Linked DNA regions of Homo sapiens. The protein of the gene in region 1 interacts with the protein of each later gene in a biochemical or structural test. Each region holds a gene or a part of one and is shown in the gene's direction. Other genes may lie near its edges.

Evidence for each region.
Region 2: the proteins of CTDP1 (region 1) and INTS1 form a complex in vitro, tested with the Homo sapiens proteins (one study listed by BioGRID).
Region 3: the proteins of CTDP1 (region 1) and INTS7 form a complex in vitro, tested with the Homo sapiens proteins (one study listed by BioGRID).
Region 4: the proteins of CTDP1 (region 1) and TCEA1 form a complex in vitro, tested with the Homo sapiens proteins (one study listed by BioGRID).

What each region holds. Positions count from the first base shown.
Region 1 is NC_000018.10:79,710,803-79,717,826, forward strand, and holds part of CTDP1 (RNA polymerase II subunit A C-terminal domain phosphatase), read left to right. Parts: intron 1-2,169; coding exon 2,170-2,336; intron 2,337-3,688; coding exon 3,689-4,726; intron 4,727-6,732; coding exon 6,733-6,874; intron 6,875-7,007; coding exon 7,008-7,024. UniProt on the Homo sapiens protein: Processively dephosphorylates 'Ser-2' and 'Ser-5' of the heptad repeats YSPTSPS in the C-terminal domain of the largest RNA polymerase II subunit. This promotes the activity of RNA polymerase II.
Region 2 is NC_000007.14:1,473,383-1,480,406, reverse strand, and holds part of INTS1 (integrator complex subunit 1), read left to right. Parts: coding exon 1-90; intron 91-722; coding exon 723-977; intron 978-1,521; coding exon 1,522-1,681; intron 1,682-1,900; coding exon 1,901-2,041; intron 2,042-2,470; coding exon 2,471-2,654; intron 2,655-2,733; coding exon 2,734-2,857; intron 2,858-3,488; coding exon 3,489-3,613; intron 3,614-3,749; coding exon 3,750-3,837; intron 3,838-3,951; coding exon 3,952-4,178; intron 4,179-4,335; coding exon 4,336-4,459; intron 4,460-5,568; coding exon 5,569-5,702; intron 5,703-6,046; coding exon 6,047-6,239; intron 6,240-6,713; coding exon 6,714-6,841; intron 6,842-7,024. UniProt on the Homo sapiens protein: Component of the integrator complex, a multiprotein complex that terminates RNA polymerase II (Pol II) transcription in the promoter-proximal region of genes.
Region 3 is NC_000001.11:211,976,549-211,983,572, reverse strand, and holds part of INTS7 (integrator complex subunit 7), read left to right. Parts: intron 1-762; coding exon 763-897; intron 898-2,382; coding exon 2,383-2,480; intron 2,481-5,061; coding exon 5,062-5,301; intron 5,302-6,028; coding exon of another isoform or gene 6,029-6,127; exon of another isoform or gene 6,128-6,741; intron 6,742-6,853; coding exon 6,854-6,991; intron 6,992-7,024. UniProt on the Homo sapiens protein: Component of the integrator complex, a multiprotein complex that terminates RNA polymerase II (Pol II) transcription in the promoter-proximal region of genes.
Region 4 is NC_000008.11:53,984,430-53,991,453, reverse strand, and holds part of TCEA1 (transcription elongation factor A protein 1), read left to right. Parts: intron 1-3,194; coding exon 3,195-3,340; intron 3,341-4,428; coding exon 4,429-4,485; intron 4,486-6,936; coding exon 6,937-7,024. Other genes in the region: LYPLA1-TCEA1 readthrough, read left to right, coding at 3,195-3,340, 4,429-4,485, 6,937-7,024.

The sequences.
Region 1 (7,024 bases):
CCCAAAGTGTTGGGATTACAGGCATGAGCCACTGCACCCGGCCTAGAGCAGTATTTCTGTATTGATGTTTTTTAGGAATTTAACATCCCCTTTCCAGTTTTCATTGTTAGCCTCAGAATACTTAGAAAGTTCCTTTCTAACCTGTACTCCCACTGTCTCCCAGGTGCCTGAGCCCTGGTGCTTGTGCAGGGCCCCCAATCCAGGCTCTGCCCCATCCCAATAGCCCTGTCCTGCCCTGAAACTGCCCTTGAGCTGGGCTTTTGTGTCTGTGGAGGCGGGGACTGTCATCCTCTCTGCCTCGTCTCTGTTAGACAGCACAATTCGATGTCAGCCCGCCACCTGACGTTGTGTATCTGTCATCCTCTCTGCCTCATCTCTGTCAGACGGCACTGATTCGATGTCAGCCCGCCACCTGACGTTGTGTATCTGTTTGCTTAACCAACCCTGGCATATGTGATCATTCTAGTCCCTTGACCTCCAAATTTTCATTCCTATGCGAAGACCTGGCATCGAGATTTGTGGTTGGAGAGGCAGGAGGCAGGCGTGTGTCCCCACAGTAGCCAGCTGTGAAGGATTTGGCCCTTTTGCCTCTGAGTATCCAGGGAATGGCCAGGGCTCCTGGGGAACTCAGCGACTGGACTTTCGGGCCCAGAACCCAGGAGGGCAGGCGTAGGGACGGGATGGCATCAGGGAGGTGGCAGTCGAAAGGACCCGAGTGGGCAGAGGAATGTGAATAGCCCCACCCCACGCACAAGCTCAGCAGCTCTGCGGGGCCACTGGTTTAGCGGCAGTTCTTGACATCAGCGTCAGCATCTGAGGTTGATAATTTTCTTAGGAGCTTGCTTGTGTTAATCCTACTAATAATTTACAAAATCCTAAGTCACTTGACTATTATGCCCATATTTTTGCCTTTTGCCATTTCTTCCTTTCCATCAGCTCCAGAGCCCCTTCCTGTCAGCTCCTCTGAGCCTTTTTGACAGGGCAGGCCGCTCCCCGCCCCTCCGCAAAGACTTTTTAATATTCTTTTATATGCTTTGACGTTTCTTGCCCACTGTATTCGAGGAGTTTCCCCATTTCCACCCGGAAGTCCGTCCTTGCTGATGTAACACCATGTCAGGTGTGGCTTGTTTTCCCGAGGAGCCTGGTGGCCACAGCCTCAGCTTCAGCCACTTCCTGGTTCTCGGTGGCCAGTCCCCACAGACTGTGAGACCTATGCTTGCTAATGTTAACTAAGAAGAGAATCTGAAAGTATTTACTTCAGAAACCTCCTTTTTGCTAGTTAGCGCCAGAGTGAGTAGATTAATCAGGGCAAAAGAGAATGAGAGGTGCTGTTAGTGTGTTACAGGGAAAAGTCACCCGAAGGCAGAATGATAGGATCGAATGGGGACATGCCCAGGATAGGCCCCAGTGGTGGGTACTGTGGTTTGCATGGAGGTAGCTGGAGGTCCGCTTAGAAATTCTGCATCAGCACTGGGTCTGGTTTTTGTTTTTTTGTTTTTGAGACGGTCTGGCTCGGTCGCCCAGGCTTAAGTGCAGTAGTGTGGTCTCAGCTCACCACAGTCTTGACTTCCTGGGCTCAAGCTATCCTCCCACTTCAGCCTTCTGAGTAGCCGGGACTACGGGCGCACACCCCCACACCTGTCTAACTTTTGTATGTTTTGTAGAGACAGGGTCTTCCTATGTTGCCCAGGCTGGTGTCAGACTCCTAGGCTCAAGAGACCCTCCTGCCAAGACCTCCCGAAGTGCTGGAATTGCAGGCATTAGCCACACAGCGCCTAGCCTGGTCTGTTTACAGAGTCAGCAAATTCTGGCCTTTAGGCTACCCAGCCTTGTTTGTACATGAAGTTTTATTGAAACATGGTCACGCCCACACGGTCAGAGTTGGGTTTCGTCCCCGTGGCCCGTAATGCCTAAAATAGTGACTCTGGCGCTTTAAGAAACAGTTTGGGAACTCCTGCCTGAAGGAGAATCGGAAACAGCACTGAAGATGTTACTGAGGTTTAAATGCGACCCAAACAGAAAGGGCTTCGGGGCGGTTGGTGTCCGTCTGATTAACCTGCTGTCTGCTGGTTACATGTGGATTAGAATCTTAAACTGTTACGCTTGGCAAGATGAATGACTACAACTTTTCATTATTATTTTTTGTAAATTATGCATTTTCACTTGTAGAAATCTCTTTCCTTGTGGAGACTCAATGGTTTGCATTATTGATGATCGAGAAGATGTCTGGAAGTTTGCCCCCAATCTGATAACTGTGAAGAAATATGTATACTTCCAGGGCACGGGTGATATGAATGCGCCCCCTGGGTCCCGAGAATCTCAGACGAGAAAGAAAGGTGGGTAACCTCCTTCCTGATTCTCTAGAAGAATTCACATTTGCTTATTGTTTAGCTCTTCTTATTTCTTATCTCTGTTTTGACTGCTATAAATTCAAGATACACTTTTTTTATTTGTGTTTCAGTAGAGATTATTGGATTTATTTATAGAGTACTGAAAAACAGGATATTAGGTTGTTTCAATTTGGGCTTTAAAAAAAATGGCCCTCACTTAAGCGTTTTCCCAGTTGAATAAAAACTAGAGGATGCTGTTTAACCTAACACATCCGAATAACTCCCTTCATCCCAGTTTTCCTTAAACACATCCCTGGGTATTGGGCCATAGTGTTCTGTAGAGAGAGTGAATGTGGGGGCGGTGGCTCTGCGGGGAATAACCGTTCCCCATGCGCAGTGGTCAGGCTGGGCGCTGGCTGGGGCCCCAGAGAGCAGCGTGGTTTAACTTGTCAGTCAGGCATGCAGCTGACGTCCACCCTACGAAAGTTAAGTGTTTTTTGATCTTTAGTTTTTTGAAAAATATTTTGAGGCACACGTTTATTGCTGTAGTCACTAAAATGGAACTTGGAGGTTAGGACCAGGGGAGGGTGAAACTAGGGGCATTCCTGTAGAAGGTAGAGACTTTCACCAGATGGGTGGGGTCAGCGTGGAGTTGCTGACTTCCTCCAGACCGTGGCTTGGGAAACCGTGGCCATGGTGGTGCCAGGTCATCCGGGGCTTACAGTCACGGTGGCGCCAGGTCTGCAGGGGCTTACGGCCACGGTGGCGCCAGGTCTGCAGGGGCTTACGGCCACGGTGGCGCCAGGTCTGCAGGGGCTTACGGCCACGGTGGCGCCAGGTCTGCAGGGGCTTACGGCCACGGTGGTGCCAGGTCTGCAGGGGCTTACGGCCACGGTGGCGCCAGGTCGTCAGGGGCTTACGGCCACGGTGGCGCCAGGTCTGCAGGGGCTTACGGTCACGGTGGCGCCAGGTCTGCAGCCCGGAAACCTCTAGTTGTCCTTACAGGTGGAGGATCCCTCCTCCCCCAAATCCAAAGCTTTTTGAGTGCCCACATGGTGCTTAAAGGAAATACTCATTAGGGTATTTTGGATTTTTTGGATTGGGGATGTTCAGCTGGTAAGTTTAACGCAAATACTCCAAACTCAGAAAAAAATTCAATATCCAAAACGTCCCTGGTCCCACGCACTTCAGGTAAGGGGTGCTCACCCTGTCCGGCCTCTTCACAGCAAGGTTGCCAAGGCCTGGTCTAGAGGGTGGTGGACTTCACAGCCATGGAGAAGGGTGCTGCTTTAACTTGGAACGTTATTTAATGTTTAATGCTAAATTGCGGTAACTTTTCCTTTTGCATGCATATTTAGTAAATCATTCTCGAGGCACTGAGGTCTCAGAGCCATCTCCGCCCGTGAGAGACCCTGAGGGGGTAACGCAGGCCCCTGGAGTGGAGCCCAGCAATGGCCTGGAGAAGCCTGCACGGGAGCTGAACGGCAGCGAGGCCGCCACCCCGCGGGACTCACCCCGCCCCGGGAAGCCAGACGAGAGGGACATCTGGCCCCCTGCCCAGGCCCCCACCAGCAGCCAAGAGCTGGCAGGCGCTCCTGAGCCCCAGGGATCCTGTGCGCAGGGTGGCCGGGTGGCACCGGGACAGCGGCCTGCCCAGGGTGCCACGGGCACTGACCTGGACTTTGACTTATCCAGCGACAGCGAGAGCAGCAGTGAGTCCGAGGGCACGAAGTCCTCCTCCTCCGCCTCTGATGGCGAAAGCGAGGGGAAAAGAGGCCGGCAGAAGCCGAAGGCTGCCCCAGAGGGAGCCGGGGCGCTGGCACAGGGCAGTTCCCTGGAGCCGGGGCGGCCTGCAGCACCGAGTCTCCCCGGAGAGGCCGAGCCTGGCGCGCATGCCCCGGACAAGGAGCCTGAGCTGGGTGGGCAGGAGGAGGGCGAGCGGGATGGCCTCTGCGGCCTGGGCAACGGCTGTGCCGACAGGAAGGAGGCGGAGACCGAGTCACAGAACAGCGAGCTGTCGGGGGTCACTGCGGGTGAGTCCCTGGACCAGAGCATGGAGGAGGAGGAGGAGGAGGACACGGATGAGGATGACCACCTCATCTACCTGGAGGAGATCCTGGTCCGTGTACACACTGACTACTATGCCAAGTATGACCGCTACCTCAACAAGGAGATCGAGGAGGCGCCGGACATCCGCAAGATCGTGCCGGAGCTCAAGAGCAAGGTGCTGGCAGACGTGGCCATAATTTTCAGTGGGCTACACCCGACAAACTTCCCGATAGAGAAGACGCGGGAGCATTACCACGCCACGGCGCTGGGAGCGAAGATCCTCACTCGGCTGGTGCTGAGCCCCGACGCCCCTGACAGGGCCACGCACCTGATCGCCGCGCGAGCTGGTGAGTGCTGCCTCCCTGTGCCCTGGGCATGGTCAGGCCCGCGGGCTCCTTGCAGGCACTCCTTAGAGTTGGCATTGCTGTTTATCTCACTTTCAATTTTCAGAAACATTTCCCAGAATCACCATCTTTTAAGAATAGATCATGACAGTGGGTGAAATTGGAGTTTGGGCACGTTCATGCTTTCAGACCGCAGTCATCGCACACACCATTCAGGGGTGGGAGTTACTCGTGTGTAGAAAGTTCAACCTTCTCCCTGGAGTAAGCCATGGCCGGGTTGGAAAACAGGGAATCAGCGATAGGGACGTAGTGGAGAAATTCGAGGCAGGAACAGGAGTTCGCAGGTAAAAGATTGACAAACCCTCTGAGTTAGAAAACTAAATGCAAGGTTTCAGCTGAAACGTGCACAGAAGGACACGTTGTGGCTGGGAGGGCGGAGGACAGGCCTGCTGTCTCCCGACGGTGAAACCTGTCCCGGACGGGGCAGGCTGCTCTGACATGTTGAAACTTCCGCCGAATAAAACAACCTTTCAGCAATAGGTGATTCTTGAAGGAAGACTTAACACCCCGGTGCTTAAAAAACCCAAATACCTCGTTATTCTAGTTATTCTGTGAAAATGCTCCCATAAGCACCTGGATTTTCCGCGAATGAAGATTGCGGTTTTTCTCCTCCAATCTGCTTCCTGTCCTGGCGGCGTTTCCTGAGAGGGCTTCTCAGTGCGTGGCCCCGCCTCCGGGGCTCAGGAAAGCCTTGTGGGGTGAGCTCATCCCTGTCCACGCACGCTCCCTGACAGCAGGTGTGGTCTTATTTGAGGCCACGGCTCTGGCACGTATCATGGGGCGTTGGACACGCATGTGCTCAGTAAAGCATTTGAATCAAGGGTAAATGGAAGGTTCCATCTCAGTGTGAAATAGCCAGGTGCTAGCTGCAGGGCAGAGGCGGGCTTTCCGTGGAGCCCAGCGAGACCCTTGATCCCAGGAGAAAGCCAAGCCCTGGCCTCCTGTGGGCAGTCAGACCCTTCTCTCCTGAGCGTGGAGCCGGGCCAGGCCGGGGTCCTCCTTGGCCCCTCAGGTGCCTGTCTGCCCTGCCGCGTGTCTGCCCAGCTCCTGACCCTTCTCTCCTGAGCATGGAGCTGGGCCAGGCCAGGGTCCTCCTTGGCCCCTCAGGTGCCCGCCTGCCCTGTCCTGTGAGTGCCCAAGCTCCTGGCCCTTCTCTCGCATTCCTTCCTTCCCCCTGAATTGTGCTCACGTTTCCTTTTTGCTTCTGTGTACGTGGCCTCACTGTTGAGAGGCTTTGCTGAACACATGCTAAGAGAGGTCCTCCTGCTGCTCAGGTCACCCGCTGTGCCCGGCTCCCCGTCTGAGATCCACCCCTTCCCACCATGGCTGCCTATCCCTGGCCTGGCAGATGGGAACCTGCAGTGGGCAGCCCTGGTGGGGTGCAGCCGGGTGAGGGCCCTGGTGGGGTGCAGCCGAGTGAGGGCCCTGAGCCCTAGTGGGGTACAGCTGGGTAAAGGCCCTGAGTCCTGGTGGGTACAGCCGGGTGAGGGCCCTGAGCCCTGGTGGGCTGCAGCCGAGTGAGGGCCCTGAGCCCTGGTGGGGTACAGCTGGGTGAAGGCCCTGAGTCCTGGTGGGTACTGCCAGGTGAGGGCCCTGGGCCCTGGTGGGGTGTAGCCGGGTGGGGGCCCTGGTGGGGTGCAGCCGAGTGAGGGCCCTGAGCCCTGGTGGGGTACAGCTGGGTGAAGGCCCTGAGTCCTGGAGAGGTGCAGCCGAGTGAGGGCCTTGGTGGGGTGCAGCCGGGTGAGGGCCCTGGTGGGGTACAGCTGGGTGAGGGCCCTGAGCCCTGCAGGGGTGCAGTCAGGTGAAGGCCCTGGTGGGATGCAGCCGAGTGAGGGCCCTGAGCCCTGGTGGGGTACAGCCAGGTGAGGGCCCTGGTGGGTGCAGCCGGATGTGGGCCCTGAGCCTCCAGTGCTGGCCGGAACAGCCTGACGCAGCCGGGTCTCCTGCAGGCACAGAGAAGGTGCTGCAGGCACAGGAGTGCGGACACCTGCACGTGGTCAACCCTGACTGGCTGTGGAGCTGCCTGGAGCGCTGGGACAAGGTGGAGGAGCAGCTCTTCCCGCTCAGGGACGATCACACCAAGGCACAGAGGTGGGTCCTCGCTGCACCCAGCAGGTCCGTGCCAGGCGTTCCCTTGCTGGACAGCTGTTGGTTCATGCACCTGGGCAGTGCCCCTCATCACCCGGACGCCCCGCTCATGGCCCTCGTTCTCTTCCTCCGACAGGGAGAACAGCCCTGCGG
Region 2 (7,024 bases), on another chromosome or scaffold:
GAGCAGCCCATAGGCCAGGGCCGGATTCGGGTGGGGACCCAGCTCCGGGTGCTGGGCCCTGAGGACGACCTGGCTGGCATGTTCCTCCAGGTAGCGTTGCTGCTGCATGTGGGTCTCCACCTGCAGCCCCTCTTCCTGCGTGCAGCCTTCGCTGCCGCCTCGCACGCACAGCGGCCTTTACTTGCGTGACCGCCTGACCCAGGCACGCTGCACACGCACAGCGGCCTTTACACGCGTGACCGCCTGACCCTGGCACGCTGCTTTCACGTAACACCCCCATGCTCTCAGATGGAGGCTAGGCCAACATTGGGGAAGGGGGTCGCCCTGCATCCTCCCTGCCATCCTTGCACACCCCTCTGCGCGGGGCACCCGGTTTGATGTGTACAGAAGCTGAGGTTGCAGGTCTCGCCTGAGGTCTGGCTGTTGGAGCCGGGGATCCTGCAGGCCTCACCACCTCCTGATGGAGAGCCTGGTGGTCCCTGGGCAGGCTCTGGACACCTTTGTTCTCTGGGGCAGCTCCTGGGTGTTGGGGTCCCTCACTGCTTCACATCACAGGTCTCAAGGGCCCTGGGCCCCTCAGGCCACAAGGTGGGGGCTACGAATGAACAGGGACACGATGGGACGCGGTTCTGGCACGGAGCTGCACCGGGCGCTTAGCCTCTCCGCTGCGCTCCTCCTCCTTCTCCTCCGCTTCCTCCTGACACTGGCCTTCCCCGTTCCAGATTTTCCCGCTCAGCCCGGACCCTCGGTGGCAGAGCTCCAGTCCCCGCCCCGTGGCCCTCGCCCTGCAGCAGGCCCTGGGCCAGGAGCTGGCCCGCGTCGTCCAGGGCAGCCCCGAGGTGCCGGGCATCACGGTGCGTGTCCTGCAGGCCCTCGCCACCCTGCTCAGCTCCCCACACGGCGGTGCCCTGGTGATGTCCATGCACCGTAGCCACTTCCTGGCCTGCCCGCTGCTGCGCCAGCTCTGCCAGTACCAGGTACTTGGGCGTGGGCCTCTTGCGGGGGAGGAGGGCAGTGAGGGCTCTGCCTCCCGCAGGACGGCCCGGGTGTCCTGTGACTGCTCCTCTGTGGGTCTTGGGTCTCAGTTTCCAAGTGAGAAAGGACAGTGCCCCAGGGAGTGGCGGCAGGTCCCCTTTTTCCAGTGAACATTCCCCCGGGACGGGAGGTGGGGGCAGTGCGGCGTCCGCCTGTTTGCACCACCCAGGCTCGGCGCTCCTGCCTTGCTTTCCCCATCTGCTGGTACCTAGGACTGTGTTTTACTTGGTGTCTGTGTTTACTTTTTCCTTTGAACCGCGTGGGAGCCCTCACCAGCTGGGGGGTTTTGAAAGGGTCTCTGTGAGGTCGTCTGGGCCCGTGCAGGGGAGGCACCGTTTCAGACAGGAGGCGGGATGAGGTTGGCCCAGGCTCCAAGTGCCGGTCGCGGCAGGTCTCAGCAGCCTCACGGGCCCTGCTCTGGGCCTCGGGTGCCGGGTCCCCGTGTGTCCTCTGCCAGGGTAGCCACGTGCCACTTTGTCCCCGCAGCGCTGTGTGCCACAGGACACCGGCTTCTCCTCGCTCTTCCTGAAGGTGCTCCTGCAGATGCTGCAGTGGCTGGACAGCCCTGGCGTGGAGGGCGGGCCCCTGCGGGCACAGCTCAGGATGCTTGCCAGCCAGGCCTCAGCCGGGCGCAGGCTCAGTGATGGTGAGGACCGCGCCGGGCTGGCAGACGGCTGGGGGGCACTGGACAGGGGCTCACTCAGAGTGGCCAAGCTGCCTGGCACCCCGAGGCCTGGGCAGTGGCTTGGGGGGTGGGTACCCGCGTGGGCCCAGGGGAGCCCTTCTACCGTGGGGCCTCCCTGGATGGGATACACCGATGGGGTGAGGGCTGGAGCCACAGGGCACTCACACAGACCTCCCACAGTGCGAGGGGGGCTCCTGCGCCTGGCCGAGGCCCTGGCCTTCCGTCAGGACCTGGAGGTGGTCAGCTCCACCGTCCGTGCCGTCATCGCCACCCTGAGGTCTGGGGAGCAGTGCAGCGTGGAGCCGGACCTGATCAGCAAAGGTACCTTCCTGGCACCATCCTCTTGGGCCACGGCGGCCCTGGGAAGACCCAAACCTGAGGCTCCTTCTAGCTGCCCAGTGGGGGACGGACAGTGTCTGCTCAGCACTGTCCCCGGAAAGTGCCCACAGAGGTCCCCTCCCAGATGGCTCAGGGCGGGGCCTCTTGAGAATGAGTTGGAGCTTCCTCCTTGGGGGGCCCCTGATCACTGCTGCACCCAGCAAAGTGAGCCCCGGCCCCGGCCGCACTCTCCAGCCCCGGCCGCACTCTCCTCTCCGGCCCCGGCTGCACTCTCCTCTCTGGCTCCGGCTGGACTCTGCTCTTGTGTCCCACACATGCTCACCCCACACCCCACCCTGGCTAGCCCACACCCACTCAGCGGCCCCCACCCGACCTGGGAGTGACCCACATGTCTCTTTGTCCCTTGCGCAGTCCTCCAGGGGCTGATCGAGGTGAGGTCCCCCCACCTGGAGGAGCTGCTGACTGCATTCTTCTCTGCCACTGCGGATGCTGCCTCCCCGTTTCCAGCCTGTAAGCCCGTTGTGGTGGTGAGCTCCCTGCTGCTGCAGGAGGAGGAGCCCCTGGCTGGGGGGAAGCCGGGTGCGGACGGTGGCAGGTGAGCTGGGGTGCTGCACACGGCCAGGGTGGGCAGGCGGGTGGCACCAGCCCTTCCCTGAGCCACCTTCTCCCTGCAGCCTGGAGGCCGTGCGGCTGGGGCCCTCGTCAGGCCTCCTAGTGGACTGGCTGGAAATGCTGGACCCCGAGGTGGTCAGCAGCTGCCCCGACCTGCAGCTCAGGCTGCTCTTCTCCCGGAGGAAGGTGGGTGGCACCCAGCTTCAGCACGGGGACCCACCCCAGGGTAAAGGCTCTTCCTGACCTGAAGTGCAGCAGCCTTGGCCTGGGCGAGCCTTGCAGGGGCCCCAGCACCCCCCCTGCTCTCAGGCCATGTGTCCCTGTAGCAACCCAGAGGAAGGGTAGGTCCCCCAATGGCCCTAGCAGAACCCAGGCCAGGGTCACAGTCACCTGTGGACCAGCACTGTGACCAGCCAGATGTGGGGATGGGGTGGGTGGATGGGGTGGGGTCGGCCCTGCCAAACCCTGTAGATCATGTAGGGGCCTCCATCTTCCCAAAGGGAATGGGGCTGTGGCCAGGAGAAGGGAGGGCAGGTGCTGGGCTCCCCACATCCTCCAGGGAGGGACGGCCTCACCAGAGAGGCTGCATGGAGCCCCGGGCACCTCCGCTGTGTGGCATGGCTCCCGTGGGAAGGGGCGGGGAGATGCAGCGCAGCCACCAGGAGCGGCCCTCCAGCACCATGACGGGGCCGGTGTTACCGGCAGCACCCCAAGCCTCGGCTCTCTGAGTGGCTCATTGGGGAAGCTGTCAGCTGACTTCAGCAGAGCCTGCCATTGGCCCAGGTGAGGCCATCCGGGCTTCTTCCTCCCTCCCCAGGGCAAAGGTCAGGCCCAGGTGCCCTCGTTCCGTCCCTACCTCCTGACCCTCTTCACGCATCAGTCCAGCTGGCCCACACTGCACCAGTGCATCCGAGTCCTGCTGGGCAAGAGCCGGGAACAGAGGTGGGCGCCTCCCTGTCCCCAACCTGGGCTGCGCGCATACTGGCCTTCACCAGAAATCTCCCAGCGCCGGCTCTGACTGGTATCTCCCATGCTGAGACGAGACACCTCGTGCTCTGGAACCTTTGCCTCCCCACAGGTTCGACCCCTCTGCCTCTCTGGACTTCCTCTGGGCCTGCATCCATGTTCCTCGCATCTGGCAGGGGCGGGACCAGCGCACCCCGCAGGCAGGTCTTGGGAGGGTGGCCCATCCGGGAGAGGGGGTGGCCCATCCGGGAGAGGGGGTGGCCCATCCGGGAGAGGCGGTGGTGCTCCGGGGCTGATGCAGGCACCCGTTACAGAAGCGGCGGGAGGAGCTGGTGCTGCGGGTCCAGGGCCCGGAGCTCATCAGCCTGGTGGAGCTGATCCTGGCCGAGGCGGAGACGCGGAGCCAGGACGGGGACACAGCCGCCTGCAGCCTCATCCAGGCCCGGCTGCCCCTGCTGCTCAGCTGCTGCTGTGGGGACGATGAGAGTGTCAGGAAGGTGACGGAGCACCTGTCAGGCTGCATCCAGCAGTGGGGAGACAGGTGCTCAGGCCCCCCGGCCCCAGATGCTGCCTGGGAGTGAGCCATGGAGGGGGTCGAGGCCCAGCCCTGGGTGGGTTCCCATCACGCCTGGTCCCGTCCACCCACCCCTGTCACTGGGGCCCCGTCCGCCTGGTGAGCCCTGCTCCACCTCTTCCAGCGTGCTGGGCAGGCGCTGCCGAGACCTTCTCCTGCAGCTCTACCTACAGCGGCCGGAGCTGCGGGTGCCCGTGCCTGAGGTCCTACTGCACAGCGAAGGGGCTGCCAGCAGCAGCGTCTGCAAGGTGAGGGCGCAACTCTGCCGCTCCCCGCCGCCGTCCCAGGTGCCCTGGCCGGGCAGGGAGGGAGGGCGGAGGCCACAGTGTACATGGCCATCGCCGGCTACCCCTCTTGCCCCTTCCCAGTCCGCGCCGCCCTGTGGCCCTGTGGGTTTGTCTGCGTTGAGTTTTATACCGAGGGAGCTTGCGGGTGCTCTGCTCGCACAGTCTGGAGAGTCGTGGTGTTGTGGGCACTGGGTGGCCTGCCATTGTGTGGATCGGCCGTTGGTTTATCTGTTCACCTGCTGGTGGACGTGGGGTCACGTTCAGTTTGGGGCAGTGACAGCTGCTGGGGACTCGTGCCCGGGTCTTGGCGGACGGCTGCGTCTGCTCCTCTCCAGTGACCCTGGTGGGGAGAGCTGGGCCTCCCGTACCCGCTTCCCCACCGCAGGCCGGAACCTGCAGCCTGTCTTCTGCTGGTACCACAGAGGGCAGCTGACTTTCTCTAATCATTTCTGCTTGTGGTTTTTTTCACTTATATGTCATTTTATTTGTTGAAATCACACTTGATGTGCAGTTTTGTGGAGGGTTTTTGAGGCAGGGTGTCTGTTGCCAAGGCTGGAGTGCAGCGGTACCATCATAGCTCACTGCAGCCTCAACCCCCTGTGCTCAAGTGAGCCTCCCACCTCAGCCTCCCGAGTAGCTGGGATCACAGGCACGTGCCACCACACCCAGTTACTCTTTTTGTATTTTTGAAAATAGAGAGGGCTATTTTCATTGCCCAGGCTAGTCTTGAACTCCTGGGCTCTGGTGATCTTCTGCCGCGGCCTCACAGAGTGCTGGGATGGCAGGCGTGAGCCACTGCGCCTGCTTGGCCGATGTGTAGTTTTGGCTTGTTTCCCGCTCATTGTATCATTTGGTGTGGAGCTTTGCTTTTATTCTGTATGGGGTTTTCCCAGAGGCTGGCTGTGGCCTGCCTGCCCTCCCGAGGTGCTCATGGAAGCCGTAAGGAGCCAGTTCCTCTGCTCATGGCGTGCCACGCGGTGGATCACGGCCACAGCTGGCGGCCAGGCTGAGTGTGGGTGGGCAAGTGAGGGGAGCCAGCGGCCCCGGCCTCAGAGCGCCCCTCCCTGCAGCTGGACGGACTCATCCACCGCTTCATCACGCTCCTTGCGGACACCAGCGACTCCCGGGCGTTGGAGAACCGAGGGGCGGATGCCAGCATGGCCTGCCGGAAGCTGGCGGTGGCGCACCCGCTGCTGCTGCTCAGGTGCTGTCCCAGAAGCCCTGCCCTCGCCAGACACTGGTTTAACCAGGGGGGTCTGCGGCTCTCCAGCCTGGGCAACAAGAGCAAAACTCCAAAAACAACAAAAAAAAGCATGTTCCCATGGGCTGAGCTTGACCGGGGGAAGTCAGGACTGAGCTGGGCCTCAGGTGGGAGGAGCTGGGTGGGCCTCAGAGAGGGGCGATCTCATCCCCACCTCCTTAGGGCAGGAGGGTGGTTGGGGGGCAGCACGGGGTCTGGCTCCCGGGGCAGGCAGTGGGGCCTTCCTGGGGACGTGCGCCAGGTGAGCCCGCCGGCCGGGGCTGACTGGGCCCTCACCGCGCCCGCAGGCACCTGCCCATGATCGCGGCGCTCCTGCACGGCCGCACCCACCTCAACTTCCAGGAGTTCCGGCAGCAGAACCACCTGAGCTGCTTCCTGCACGTGCTGGGCCTGCTGGAGCTGCTGCAGCCGCACGTGTTCCGCAGCGAGCACCAGGGGGCGCTGTGGGACTGCCTTCTGTCCTTCATCCGCCTGCTGCTGGTGTGTGCTCCCGCCGCCCGCCCTCGCGCTCCCTTCCACTCCCTCTGCTCTGGCCCAGGCCTGCCTCACCCACTCGCGGAGGGACTGGGAGGACCTCTGCAGCCAGGGCCCAGGCCAGGCCACCTGCCCTGGGGACCAGCTCCCACCCTGGGAAGCCCCTGCCTGCTGCCCCTCACGTGCCTGGGGGGCCCACGTCCTTCAGAAGCCCAGCCCAGACCCTCCGTGCTGTTCTCTGCGTGTCGCTTGTGCTACCTCGAGCCCCTCATCCATCTGGGCACATGCCCCAGACAGCCATGTCCACACCCTGACAGGCCATGCCGGCCACCCTTGGGCCTGTGACGCCCCAGTGGTTGGCAGAGGGGGCTCGTTGGCTGTGGGGTCCATGCCCTGAGGCTCTGGGAGCAGATGGGAGCACAGGCTCTGTTTTGGCCCTGCGGGGCAGAGCAGCTCGAGGGTGCCGCTTTTGCTTTGCAGAATTACAGGAAGTCCTCCCGCCATCTGGCTGCCTTCATCAACAAGTTTGTGCAGTTCATCCATAAGTACATTACCTACAATGCCCCAGCAGCCATCTCCTTCCTGCAGAAGCACGCCGACCCGCTCCAGTGAGTGCCCACGGGCTGCAGGGAAGCCTCGGGCCTCCGGCGAGGGTCCAGCGGGGTCTGGAGGGTGTTCCTGGGAAGGCCGTGTCGTGTCAGATATGCTGCTCCTGAGGCCGGGGAGGGCTGCTGAGCGTGGTGCTCATCCCAGGGCGCAGAGGCCGCCCCACCCTGTGCCGAAGCCGTCTG
Region 3 (7,024 bases), on another chromosome or scaffold:
TCCTTGTTTTCTTGAAGCTTATTCAGTTATAACTGAGGGCTTCTCTACTGTAAATTACAATAGTTACAACATGAACCTTGCATTCCAGAATTTCAAATGTGAATTTTAAAAATTGCTGCAATCTATAGCATGGAATTTAAGGTATAAAGCAGAAGAGTATAATAACAGGGGCATTAGAACATGACTGATAAGTTTTATGAACTTAATGGCAAGATTCTTAAAATTTTGGGGCTTTGGGCTTTGATTCCACCTGTAAAAATAGGGTGTGTTAAATCAGATGATCCCAAAATTCTTTCCAGCTCTACAATCACGAATTCATATGAGGTATAAATGTGTGTCAGCAATCTGAGATGGAAAAAAAAAGCAAATTTAAATTTTTTTCTCTTTTCTCTCCTATCTTGAAAGTATGGTTTTGTCTGACAAGAGGCCTATAATGATACCTGTTTTAATCAGAATTCATTTGAACTCTTAGGATAGTTGTTTTGGCTTTTGTACTGTTAGTCAATTTTTATTAATATTTTTTAAGAAATTATACGTTGATTTTAGATCTTAGTCATTACGAAACTGTTGGCACATACCTATTTCAAGTACCTTAATGGAGAGAAATGCTGATATGTATTGATAGTGGGATTGTGGTAGGAAATTTTGTTGAAGTTTATTGTTAGAGACTTTTCTCAAAAATTAAGAAAATTGAACCTATGAGCTGAACTGCTTTTGAACTATTTGAATTACAATTTCTACTACTTTTCTCTGCTTTTTTAGGAAATGTGAGTTCTTCTCCCAGATCTTCTGATTTAGTCAAATTAGCCCAAGAGTGCTGTTACCATAATAACAGGGGCATTGCAGCTCATGGAGTTAGAGTCCTAACTAATATAACTGTTTCTTGTCAAGAAAAGGGTAAGTTTGATCAGGACTGATATTACGTATAAACTTTGGTTTAGACCTTGGACAGAATTCTGTTTGATTTTTTTTTAATCCCTTATTTTTAGCCTGTGTGCCTTGATCTACAAATTGACTCCTTTCAAAGTGTTCTTAGAGCATGTGTTCTTAAGACTACTTTATCCTTGTGAAAAATAATAAAGAGATGAAGACCTTGGGAGTGGAATTGAAAGGTTTTATGGAGCATTGCCCATTTCCTTCCACTGCTTACCTTTGCATATATGGTGCATATATGGTGGATAAAGATTGCTTAGGACTCTACCCCTTTTGTATAAGGTGGTATGTTCACTTATACAAAAACCTAGAAAATTTACTTAGGTTCTCCAGGGACTTAAATAACAAATAGTTTCACCTAGAGGCAAGTGAATTCACAGACCAATGTGAATTAAATTTTCACAGAATTTACTCTAGGTATATGTGGCATTAAACTGACTTGCATAATCAAGGAGGACATGCAAGGAAAATAATGCACATATTTTGTTGTCTACCTAACATCTTTTGACTTGTGTTCAAGAACAAGAAATGCATTTTGGATATTCCATCTGTTTCAGTGCTGATTTTGATCTTCATTAAGGATTACAAGCTCAGTGGTTCCTCTTATCCCCCCTAGCCTTCAGCACTGCTTGTTCCTAGTACCTGTTTTTTTCTAGCAACCTGACCTTCACTAGCCTTTACTCTGTTTGCCAAGCTCCTGCACTCAGGAAACATTTCTTAAAGTTGAAAGTTGATTCTGATTTGGATAATTAAGCCTGTTTTATATTGGCATCACAAAGAGTATTTTCTTCCATGTAACACAGAAAACTGCTGTATGTTCTCAACACTGAAATATATTAACCTAAAGGTAACTAATATATTCAGAACTTTCTAAAACCTTCAGAGAAATTTTAACCCTATGGTAGTGAAAAGATGTTCTAGTGCTGCTATTTCATGAGACATCTAAGAGGTTCATTCTTTATGGTCAGACTTAAAACAGTAATAAGGTTATGTGGAGACCTTATTATTTCCTAAAAGTGGTTCAGCTTTCATTAGAAGCTGAAAACTGTTATATCTTAGGTAAAAATGGACCTGCATAATTTATTTCTGATTAGGGAGATTAACACATACTGCATAGTTTGCTGTTCTTAGTATTTTCCTTAGCTAAGCTGGTGACACTATTTCAGTTTTGCTTTATTTATAGCTTTGTGGCTTTAGCTCTTGATTTAATGTGTATATTTTTATAAATACTTCAATAAAGTGGTAGAAATAAAGTCTGAAGATAGACTTTACATTCTAGAAGTAATGCCACATGTACTTTTTCAAGGAAGGTTAGGTTCATCCATTTAATAATTCCCTATATCTTAAACTCCTTAATGTTTTTTCTAAGAGAGTGTGTATGCATGTATATGTGTGTGTGTTTGTACACACATCACTTGACCATCATAAAGTTTACTGTTTTTCTTCTAGATCTTTTGGCACTGGAACAAGATGCTGTCTTTGGCCTGGAATCCCTACTGGTACTTTGTAGTCAAGATGATAGTCCAGGTGCTCAGGCCACTTTAAAGGTGAAAACTTTTATTTATTAAGTTGTAATAGATATATATGATGGTCTTAGGCAATAGAAAGCAAAGTTAAGCAGACATAGCTCCTGTACTCTTAGAAGTTTTAATCTAAGTGATTAAATCTAACTGATAAAACTACACTGATTTAATCTAACTGATAAAACCACAAAAAAACTGATGACATGACTGCAGCCGACTCATAAATGTTCATTAATTTAACATAAGCGTTCATTAATTTCCCAGTGGTATAAGCCCTAGTTTATAAGCCAAGGGAAGAATATTTTAAGGAATTTTCACCTTCACTTAGTTACAGAAATCATCTTAGAGATATGCAAGATTTTTAAAATGTGAAATGAGGCCAGGACAGTGGCTCTCATGCCTATAATCCCAGCATTTTGGGGCGGTCAAGGTGGAAGGATTGCATGAGCCTAGGAGTTCAAGACCAGCCTGGGCAGCATACTGAGACCCCATCTCTAGAAAAATTTTTTAAAATTTAGCTGGACATATTGGGGCACACCTATAGTCCTAGCTACTCATGAGGCTGAGGTGAGAGGATTGCTTGAGGCCGAGAGGTTGAGGCTGCAGGGAGCCATTATTGCACCACTGTTCTCTACCCTATGTGAAAGAATGAGACCCTGTCTCAAAAAAAATAAATAAATAAAATGTGAAATGAAACTACTCTTTTTGGAGTGAAACGTGAAATATAATTTGTGATGGTGCAAAATTAATGAGGAGAAGCATAGTTAATAGAAGTAAGAAACTGTTAGATAAACATTGGCGTTAGCTTGTCTAAGGTGTGGTTTCAAGGAAGTCATGGCTCATTTTAGCAGGTTAAGGAAAGTTGTGATATGGTCATAGTGATGAACAATAAAGATAGTAACATCATTAAGTGACAGCTAATAAGAAGTAGAGAAGGGAAGTAGACAACATGTGTTTGGCAACACATTCTGAGGGGGATCCTCAGAATCCCCTTGGAACCACAGTACATTTAAGACTTTTTTTAAAAGCAAATCTTTTTTCCAACAATTGTGGGTGTCAGTAAAATGCTGGATTCAGCACAGTGGGACATACATAGATGGCCAAGAAAGGTTCCTGTAATAGAGGAGCTTCCCATCTAGAATAGGCTACTGATGTTTATATAGGGGACTATAATACCAAGCGGAACACAATACATTCTCTGATATTTCACAAAAAAAGTGCAGTTCTAATGAGAGGTCAGAGTCGGGAGTGATTAACTTTAACCAAGGGTATTAGGGAAGACTTTAAATAAATGTCATATGAGTTGAGTTGTGAAAGATGGAATCGAATTACAGTAATGAGGAAAGATTGTTTGAGCCCAATGACTGCTGTTATAAAAGACTTGAAAGTAAGAATGTACCTGTTGTGGTGGAAGAATGGTGACTAGCCCACTGTGGCTGGGTGAAATAATTTGAGATTTGGAAAAGTAGTTCAGTCATAGAGGATATCAAATAACATGGTATTATGGCTTTGATTCTATAGGTAATGAGGAGATAATATAATTTTAAAGTAATGGTAACCTTTGTCGTAATTATTATTGTTATTTGAATGTCTATTATGTGCCAATCTTTGTTGAAGACTTATATATACATTTGTTTCAGTCCTTCAATAACCCTATAATGAAATGTGTTCTCCTCTTATACACATCAGAAACTTAAGGCCGAGAGAGAGAAGTACCTTGTTCAAAGCCACCTAGCTAATAAGGGGCAAGCTGAGCTTCAGCCCTTGCATTTATCAGACTCTAAAGTTATGTGTGTGCCTGACACCCCACTGATGGCTACATGGCTGCATTGTGAAGGATGGATTGAAGGGCCCATCTTTTCAAGAAATTGGAATTAGGAAGAGATTTATGATGTGGTAGAGAGAATGGAAAAGTGCCAACAGTGGATATTGGAGGCTTGACAAAAGAATCTGTTAGCTATGTAAAAGTGGGAATATTTCTAGGTTTCTAGTTTTTTGGCTGGATATTAGTGATGCCTTTAAGAAGGCCTTGGTAAGAGAAATTCTGTAGCCAAATTGGTTTTTAGATTTCAGTTGAGAAATAAGAGAAAATTGGGAACCTCTTTCCCACTTCAGTGTACTTAGAGTCATCTAAGCCGTCTTTTTAAAACTGTGAAACCTCAGTAGCCTCAACACACACACACACGTATGTTAATTCAGGAATCTATATTTTTATTTTCATTCTGGGAGATGCTGGCATAGTTTACAAGCCACACTTCAGAAGCAGTTCCTGAAAAGTAATGATAATACAGTGATGGTGACATTTGGCCTATATTTGCCTCTTCAGCATTATTCCTTATGATTTCCATCTTTCTTAAAAGTATTTTAATAGTCTTAGATTGAAATGAGTGGTTGACGTGCAGTCCTAATTTGTTATTTTAAACGTAGTGCACTTCACAAACCCTAATGTGAGATTCAGTACCTCATATTTCTTATGAAGTAAAATGTTATGCCTACAAGAAACCTCACCCTTGAGTTTCCCCAGTAACCTGTACAAAGCTCTTTTCCTTAAAGCTTCATCTGTATCTTCAAAATGTAACTAGTTCATTTTCTTTTTGGCGTGCAGATTGCTCTAAACTGTATGGTGAAGTTGGCCAAGGGCAGGCCCCATCTTAGCCAGTCAGTAGTTGAGACCTTGTTGACTCAATTGCACAGTGCTCAAGACGCTGCCCGGATTTTGATGTGCCATTGCCTGGCAGCCATTGCCATGCAACTGCCGGTGCTGGGTGATGGGATGCTTGGTGACCTCATGGAGCTGTACAAGGTGATTGGACGATCAGCCACAGACAAGCAACAAGAACTTCTGGTAAAAAGCCCATTTTGAATCTCCTTTGAATGACTAGGATCTGGTCTAGTGGGAATTACTTTTAAGTCAACATTACTATTTGACTTTACTTAAAAAACAGAACAAACAATAGGTTAAATTCATTACCTAAGACCAAAGAGTGTGCTGATGTCAAAATAGAATTGGCTTTATGAGCTTTTTACTTTTTTCACTTTTGATTTAGAAAGCCGTGTTTTGTTCACCTCTAAAACTGCTTTCTTCCGAAACCCTGTCAAATCAGCCTAGTATAGCCAAAGCCTTCAATCTCATGTTTTTTTTTATTGCAAAGGACAGAATGAAAATGAAATTTTTATCTTTCTTATACAGAGTAAATAATGAACTAAACCCTGTTTTGTACTTTAGAAAATAGAAGTTAAAAATCTAATGATAATAATGACCATAAATTAGCCCAAATTTATGTTTTCCATTCCAGGACCTCTTTAGCTGTTTAGGATCCAGTTTAGGCTTCTGTAGACCCTTGAGGTTGGGAAAGGTACATGCTTAGAAAGAAACAGAAGCTGTGGAAGCTATAAAATGTTTAGTTGAAAAGTTCTGCAGGACTGAGAGTAGGCTACATTCTAAATAATTGTAAATTAAATGAAAGTTGTAAGGTTGCCATTCCATATTGTTCTGTTCATCTTAATTTAGAATGTGGGAAAAAATATAATGAAATAATTTATTCAAGCCTGTTTTATGTTTAATCCTCCAGAGGGAATTGTGTAAAAGATTGACCCCATCCCATCATTTGCTGCCAGAAAAGGTTACCTTGATGACCAAATGTATGGATCTTTATATGAATCAGCTTTGAAATATTAAGAGGCAGTTAGCTAAGTTTATTTTTTATTGAAGTGGCATTTTGAACTAACGGTCCTGATATCTTTTTTGTGAGTACTACCTTAAGATTGTCTTAAATTATGAAACATAATATTCAAAAAATCTGAGGAATAATACAGTGAAAACTCTTGCATTCATTATCTAGCTTAAGAAAAAGGTATTAACAGTTTAGTTGAAGCCCCCTGTTTACCTTGCTGATAGCATCTCCTCCCTTCTCTCAGGTAACCACTATCCTGAATTTGGTATTTATCATTCTCATGCCTGTTATTCTTTTACTACCAAAGTGTATATCCCTAAGTAATATGCAGTATTTTGCATATTTTTAATTTTATGTAAACTTTATCATACTACTTGTAATCTTTTGCATTTTGCATATTTTTGCGTATTTTGCTTGTCATCTATGTTGGTAAGTCTGTCGCTAGTTTATCCATTTTATTTACGTATCTCATTGTTTGATTATGTTATATAATTTATTCATATTATGGGTATTGCTTCTACTTCTTTGCTGTTATAAAGAGTGCCCTGAGTGAATGGAATAAATTAATGACTTCAAAATAAAAAATTAAATAAATGTCATTGGAAAACAAATTTTGTTCTTTTGCAGTGGGCTCTAATTAGTTTTCCTCCCTTTGGGGTAGGTTATCAATGACACTGAATAAAATTAAATGATTTTCTTGGTTTTCTTCTTGCCCAATGTTAGGTGAGTTTGGCTACTGTGATTTTTGTTGCAAGTCAGAAGGCATTGTCTGTGGAAAGTAAGGCAGTAATTAAGCAGCAGCTTGAAAGTGTCTCCAATGGATGGACTGTATACCGTATTGCCAGACAGGCTTCCAGAATGGTATGTGTTACCCTTCTGAGTGAACTGGGTTGC
Region 4 (7,024 bases), on another chromosome or scaffold:
CAAAGTGCTAGGATTACAGGCCTGAGCCACCGCGCCCAGCCTTGTTTTTATTTTTTTTTTTGAGACGGAGTCTTGCTCTGTTGCCCAGGCTGGAATGCAGTGGCACAATCTTGCCTCACTGCAACCTCTGTCCCCCAGGTTCAAGCGATTCTCCTGTCTCAGCCTCCCGAGTAGCTGGGATTAGAGGTGCACGTCAACACACCCAGCTAATTTTTGTACTTTTAGTAAAGATGGGGTTTCATCATGTTGACCAGGCTGGTCTCGAACTCCTGACCTCAAGTGATCCACCCACCTTGGCCTCTCAAAGTACTGGGATTACTGTCGTGAGCCACTGCGCCTGGCCTCTCGTTGTCTTTTATCAGTTTTACGTGCTTGACGTGTAGGTATAGAGCCTGTCTGCAAAAGAAAATTACTGTATGTGAAGTCTGATAAAGTAACTGATTGGTATCTATCTACACCCCATCCCCGCCCCAACACACACAGAAATACAGGAGGATTGAGAAATGAATTTTGAGGAGTCATGTAAAGAAAGATAGAAGGTTAAATCTAAGTTGCTTGTAGCTAAGCAGGATTTTATATTTTGGGTGCAAGAATTTAAGAAGAAAGTAATGTGTTTAAATGCTTAGAAAGGAAGGATCAGAATGTAGGAAGTGGGACCAGCAGTAGTGAAACTAGTGAGGAAAAGTTTCCCTCAGCCCATATGGGCAATTTCCCTTGGTTCCTGTGGAGCATTTGGCTACAGACACAGAAGCAAAAGCATTTAATCAAAGTGTTTAAGAACTGGGTTTTTGGCTGGGTGTGGTGGCTCACACCTGTAATGTCAGCACTTTTGGGAGGTCAAGGTAGGGGGATCACTTGAGCCCAGGAGTTTGAGACTAGCCTGAGCAACATAGGGAGGCCCTGTCTCTACAAGTAATAAAAAGCATTAGACAGGTGTGATGGCACATGCCTGTGGTCCCAGCTACTTGGGAGGCTGAGGCAGGAGAACCGTCTGAGTTTGGGGGTCATGGCTGCAGTAAGCCATGGTTGTTTCACTGCACTCCAGTCTGGGTGACAGCGTAAGACTGTCTCAAAAGAAAAAAAAAAAAAAAAAGAAAAGAAATGAGTTTTGGGGCCTGGCACGGTGGCTCAAGCACTTTAGGACGCCGAGGCGGAATTATCACTTGAGGTCAGGAGTTTGAGACCAGCCTGGACAACATAGACCCTTTCTCTACCAAAAAAAAAAGGTTTGTTTGTTGGATTATTTTTTTTTTTTGGAGACAGAGTCTTGCTCTTTTACCCAGGATGGAGTGCAGTGGCGTAGTCAAGGCTTTCTGCAGCCTCAACCTTTCAGTCTCAAGCGAGCCCCCTACTTCAGCCCCCAAGTAGCTAGGACCACAGGTGCATACCACCATGTTTGGCAAATTTTTAAAACTCTTTTTGTAGACCCTGGGTCTCACTATTTTGTCCGGGCTGTTCTTGAACTCCTGGGATTACAGGCATGAGCCAGCTTGCCCGGCCAAAAAATATTTTTAAAATTAACTGGGCATGGTGGCATGCACCTGTAGTCCTAGTTACTCAGGAGGCTGAGGCAGGAGGATTGCTTGAGCCCAGGAGTTCAAAGCTGCATGAGCTGTGATGGCACCACTGCACAACTCTTGCTCTCTTCACCACTGTGAAAAGTCTTGCTCAGTTGCTCAGGCTGGAGTCTTAAAAAAAAAAATAATAAATGGGTTTTTAAGCATTAGTTTGCTCATTCATTTATCACTGAGAGGCATTATGCTACATAATGAAAATACAAAGAAAAGTAAATCCTAGTTTTTGCTCTTGAGAAACTCAGTCTGATAGAGAAGAAAATGTATGAAAAGTTATCATATACAAACCTGTGTGAATCAATATTTTGGGAATACAGGGGGAAATCAGTGAAGGCTTCAAAAAGGAACTGACTAAATTTAAAAGGTACTAATGTCCGTCTGACCCACAGGCACCTGTTTGTGAAGTTTAACAGTGGTTATGTTTTGGAGAGAAGGCAAGGGAGTATGTTCTTGTAGCATTGCAGCAAACCACATCTATGGATGGTGGATGATTTAATCAGTCTTTGAAAAGGGTTATGGCAGCTGTTTTCAATGTGATAAAGCTTAATTGTAATCATGAAGATTATTTTGGAAAGAACCCATTTTAGTGATAATCCAACGTAAGAAGCTACTCAGAAGCAATTGAAAGGATTAGGTTGACTGGAAAATTATAAAACTGCCTAAATGTTCATATCGAGGTGATGTTTCTGGGGAGAAACACACCATTTTGTAGCCTCATGACTCATCAGTACACATGGTATTTGTCTCACTGGGGAACTCACTGTCTAAGTGGAACAAGGTTTTCCTTTTTCTTTTTGTTCTTTTTTTTTTTTGAGGTGGAGTCTCGCTGTGTCACCCAGGCTGGAGTGCAGTGGTGCAGTCTTGGCTCACTGAAACCTCTGCCTCTGGGTTCAAGCGATTTTCCTGCCTCAGCCTCCCAAGTAGCTGGGATTACAGGCGTGTGCCACCACGCCCAGCTAATTTTTGTATTTTTAATAGAGACGGGGTTTCACCATTTTGCCCAGGCTGGATTTGAACTCTACTGGCCTCAAGTGATCTGCCTCTCTTGGCCTCCCAAAGTGCTGGGATTACAGCTGTGAGCCACCATGCCCAGTGAAACAGAGTTTTTCAAGCATTCTCTCTCTCTATCTCTAGTTTTGGTTGAAAGCTGTCATTCTCTGGTGTGAACCTGGGAGGTGGAGCTTGCAGTGAGCCGAGATTGCACCATTGCCCTCCAGCCTGGGTGACAGAGCAAGACTCCGTCTCAAAAAAGAAAGCTGTCATTCTCTGGTCCCATCCCTTCATCCCTCTCCTTATACCAAGATCATTGCTTTTCATTTATTGTACTGAGCTATAATGGGTATTTTCTCTATTAAAAATATTGCTTAATATTTAAAATGAGAATCAAAGATAAAATGTTTAGTTCAAAAAAAAGGCATACTTGTCACTTTACTAAATTGTAAAATTTTTAACTTCTTTTTAATCTGTATGCAGGCAATTTTTTTTCCATCACATAAAGGTCACTGAGATACTGTGTCATTTATTTAGACCCCAAATTTTGTTTTTACAGCATGATAGTAGTATTGTTACTTTGAAAGGATTGTTCTTGATTTCTTTTTGGGGTGTTTGTGCGTATTTCAGTACTTCCAGCGGCAATGTAAGCAACAGAAAGGATGAGACAAATGCTCGAGATACTTATGTTTCATCCTTTCCTCGGGCACCAAGCACTTCTGATTCTGTGCGGTTGAAGTGTAGGGAGATGCTTGCTGCAGCTCTTCGAACAGGGGGTAAGTCCAGTGCATGTTATTTCTCAGTCCTTTGGTCACCACCCACAACCACTGCCATCTCCAACTCCATATTGCTGTTTGATGAGTGTTACCCTGTGGATAGCCCACCCACTGCTGCTTAGCTTGGGGAGAAGTTGTTGCTGATACGGGTCTGTTAAGGGGGAGAGGAGGAGGAATACTGGGGCATTTGCTTATTACTATGTAATTGTAAGAAATAGATTCCCTCTAATACATGGATGTTTTCCCTGATTTCATAGTAATGTACACTTTTTTCTCACAAATCTTTTGTTTCCCCACAATTTAATCTGCAAACTACATACCCTGATCTTATATTGAGAGTTAACAATACTGAATTGTTGAATAGTATGACATATAGTATGAATGTTTTCCATTTTCTAGTTAGAAAAAGGGAGGGTGAGTCTTGATTTATATATGGGAGCTTAATTTAATTTGAAAGTATCCAGTCTTAACATGTAACATTTGGATTTAAAGTTTTATATACAGGAATATTTGTTATTTTATACGAATTCATCCTTTTTCTTTTCTCTCATTCTGCACCATGGCTAGTTTGACCTGATTTTCTCCTTACTCTGCCCTTTCTACTTTGATTTCCTGACTGTCTCTTTTATTTTTTCTGCCTAGTTTATTTCCTTCTATCCTCTTGCATATTTGTATAGCAGTCTTCTGAGTGTGTCTGTATATGTGATTGGCAGATTAACTAAATGATTTCTTTGCATTGAAGCCTGAGTCACAGGAGACTAGACAGTTCTTTCTGTAACTTTCTCTACTCTGCTGGAGCAGCCAGAATTTATGGAGTTACGAAAAATGAATTGCCTGCTAGATCAGTTACTTCCTGTGCCTGAGGGATCAGGAATCATCAGTGCAGGAGCACTGTGGGTATCAGGTGAAGCCCAGAAAAGAAGTCTAGCGGGCAGTGAAGTGATCAGATTCTAACGAACTAAACTGAACGGTTTCTTTATGTCAGGCAAATGGGGTTTAAGAAATAGGAATGCAGTTTAATTACCTGGTATTAGAATTTTCTTTTAATCTGTTACAATAATTTGACAATTCTTTATGCCTATTTTTAGATGACTACATTGCAATTGGAGCTGATGAGGAAGAATTAGGATCTCAAATTGAAGAAGATATCCTTTGTGTGTATATTCATAATTGTTTTTTTTAATAAGTAATATTTATTGAACATATGCAAATGCCAGGCACGGTTTTACATGCAGTAGTCCTTCCAATGAATTAGGTGCTCTCATCCCATTTTACAGAGAGAAAACAGAAGCAGAAGAGGATTGGTCATTGTTCTAGATCACACAGCCTGACACTGACAGGGCTGGGATTCCATTGTAGGGAATTTGGCTCCAAGCCCATGACCTTGACCACCACGCTAGACTTTTTCCTTCATGTTGAAGCTGAATGAACTAGAAACAGCGAAGTTTAAAAGGACCTGGCTCTTTGGAAACTGAAACATATAAATCCCTAGTAAAATTGCTTCAGATAGCAGGAGAGTGAAAATATGATTGAGAACAAGAAAGGCAAACCGATAACATAATTAGAAGAGATTACAAAATACATGAGAACATTGGGTGTATCTCGTTGGCAATTTGAAAACCTAAAGAATTTCGCTTTCCTAGCAAAACATGAGTGTCCAAGATTGACTTTATGTACTTGGCAGGACAGGCTGTGTTATATTATGGTGACAACCTTGAAATTTCAGTGGCTTAACACCACAGAGGTTTCTTTCACAGATTAAACTGGACAAACAGGAATGTATTTGTCCTATATGTTCATCACAGGCTAGCTGAGGACTCTGGGCTTTGGGTCATTGTCCTCTAGGACCAGGCAGGTGGATTGGCCATTGTGAGTGGTGATGTGGCAGAAGGTAAAATGGATAAATTGCATACTGGCTTTCAAAACTACTGCTGAGGAGTGACATCTATTACTTCTGCTACCAGCCAGAAAGGTCTCTTGGTGTCACACAACTTCAAGTGGTCATAATTGTTTTAAGTAATCTGCTAGCTTAATTTTTCCTGTTGGTATAGAATTCAAAGTCTTATTCTTCACTTTTTATCTTGATTGTATTGTTTTCTTGGAAAGGAGAGGGACATCTATGTCATTTTATTTGTCTTGTTTTTCCTGTTATTGAAAAGGAAAGTACAGTATTGATGGCATTTATGACATTTAAATTTTTCTGCCTTGTAGATTGAGACTGTAGTGTCTGAATTTAAGTTGTGCAAAAGGGCATGGAAAGCACACACATATAAATGTGAAGACTTCTCAGTTAGGGGGACCTCAGAGCACACACAGTCACCTGAGCTCATTATCCCAGAGGAAGCGTGTTCTTGCTAAGCACCGGGAAAGGGCTCCAGGAGAGGGGTACTGTGTGTGAGTAGGGGCAGGGAGCATCTAGGTGGCTGTGTAACATGAGATTGTCCTGGTTGAGGAAATGGCCTTATTAGGAAGGGAGCTGTTCCAGGGTTCAGCTTTGGCAGTGGCCTCTTCTGCAGAGAAGAAGAGCCTGCTGAGGTAGCTCCTGCTGAGCTGGGGGAGGAGAGGAACCCTCACGGCCATGCTGAATGGTCTCTTCTCAGAGACCCTGTGGGAACTGTGTGACCAGAGAGACTTTAGGATCCTTAGTAGAATTCGGATTTGGGCAAGTAAAGCTTGAATAAGTTCAAGCTCCTTTTCAAACATGTGCTTTCTCATGTTGAGTACTTGAGTTACTTTTTGAAACCCTGTTGACTTGCATACTGCTGGCACTAAACATTTAGGAAATAAAACATGACTAGGCCGGGCGCGGTGGCTCACGCCTATAATCCCAGCACTTTGAGAGGCCGAGACGGGTGGATCACCTGAGGTCAGGAGTTTGAGACCAGCCTGGCCAACATGGTGAAACCCCGTCTCTACTAAAAATACAAAAATTAGCCGGGCATGGTGGCAGGCGCTTATAATCGCAGCAGCTACTCGGGAGGCTGAGGTAGGAGAACTGCTTGAACCCGGGAGGTGGAGGTTGCAGTGAGCTGAGGTCCAGCCTGGGTGACAGAGTGAGACTCCTTCTACCCACCTTCAAAACAAACAACTACTTTACAGTGTAAAAGTAATATCACTATTATTCGCCAATTACAGCTCAAGGAATTAGATATAGTACCTTGTTTTTAACATACTCTAAATTGGAAACAGTTGTCGTGAATTGCTTAGAAATTTCAGGTTTGTTTTTTTTTTTAAGATGGAGTGTCCCTCTGTCGCCCAGGCTGGAGTGTAGTGACCTGATCTCAGCTCGCTGCAACCTCTGCCTCCCAGGTCAAGTGGTTGTCCTGCCTCAGCCTCCCGAGTAGCTGGGACTGCAGGCACCTGCCACCATGCCTGGTTAATTTTTTGTGTTTTTAATAGAGACGGGGTTTCATCATGTTAGCCGGGATGGTCTCGATCTCCTGACCTCGTGATCCACCAGCCTCAGCCTCCCAAAGTGCTGGGATTACAGGCATGAGCCACCGTGCCTGGCCTCAGGAATTCTTATTTTGGCAGAACAGGAAAAAAAAGTGATCTTACTTTTGTAATTTTGCCTTTTTTCCTTAACGGCCTGGTACCTATATATCAAGAAATAAGGAATACAGACATGAAATACAAAAATAGAGTACGAAGTAGGATATCAAATCTTAAAGATGCAAAAAATCC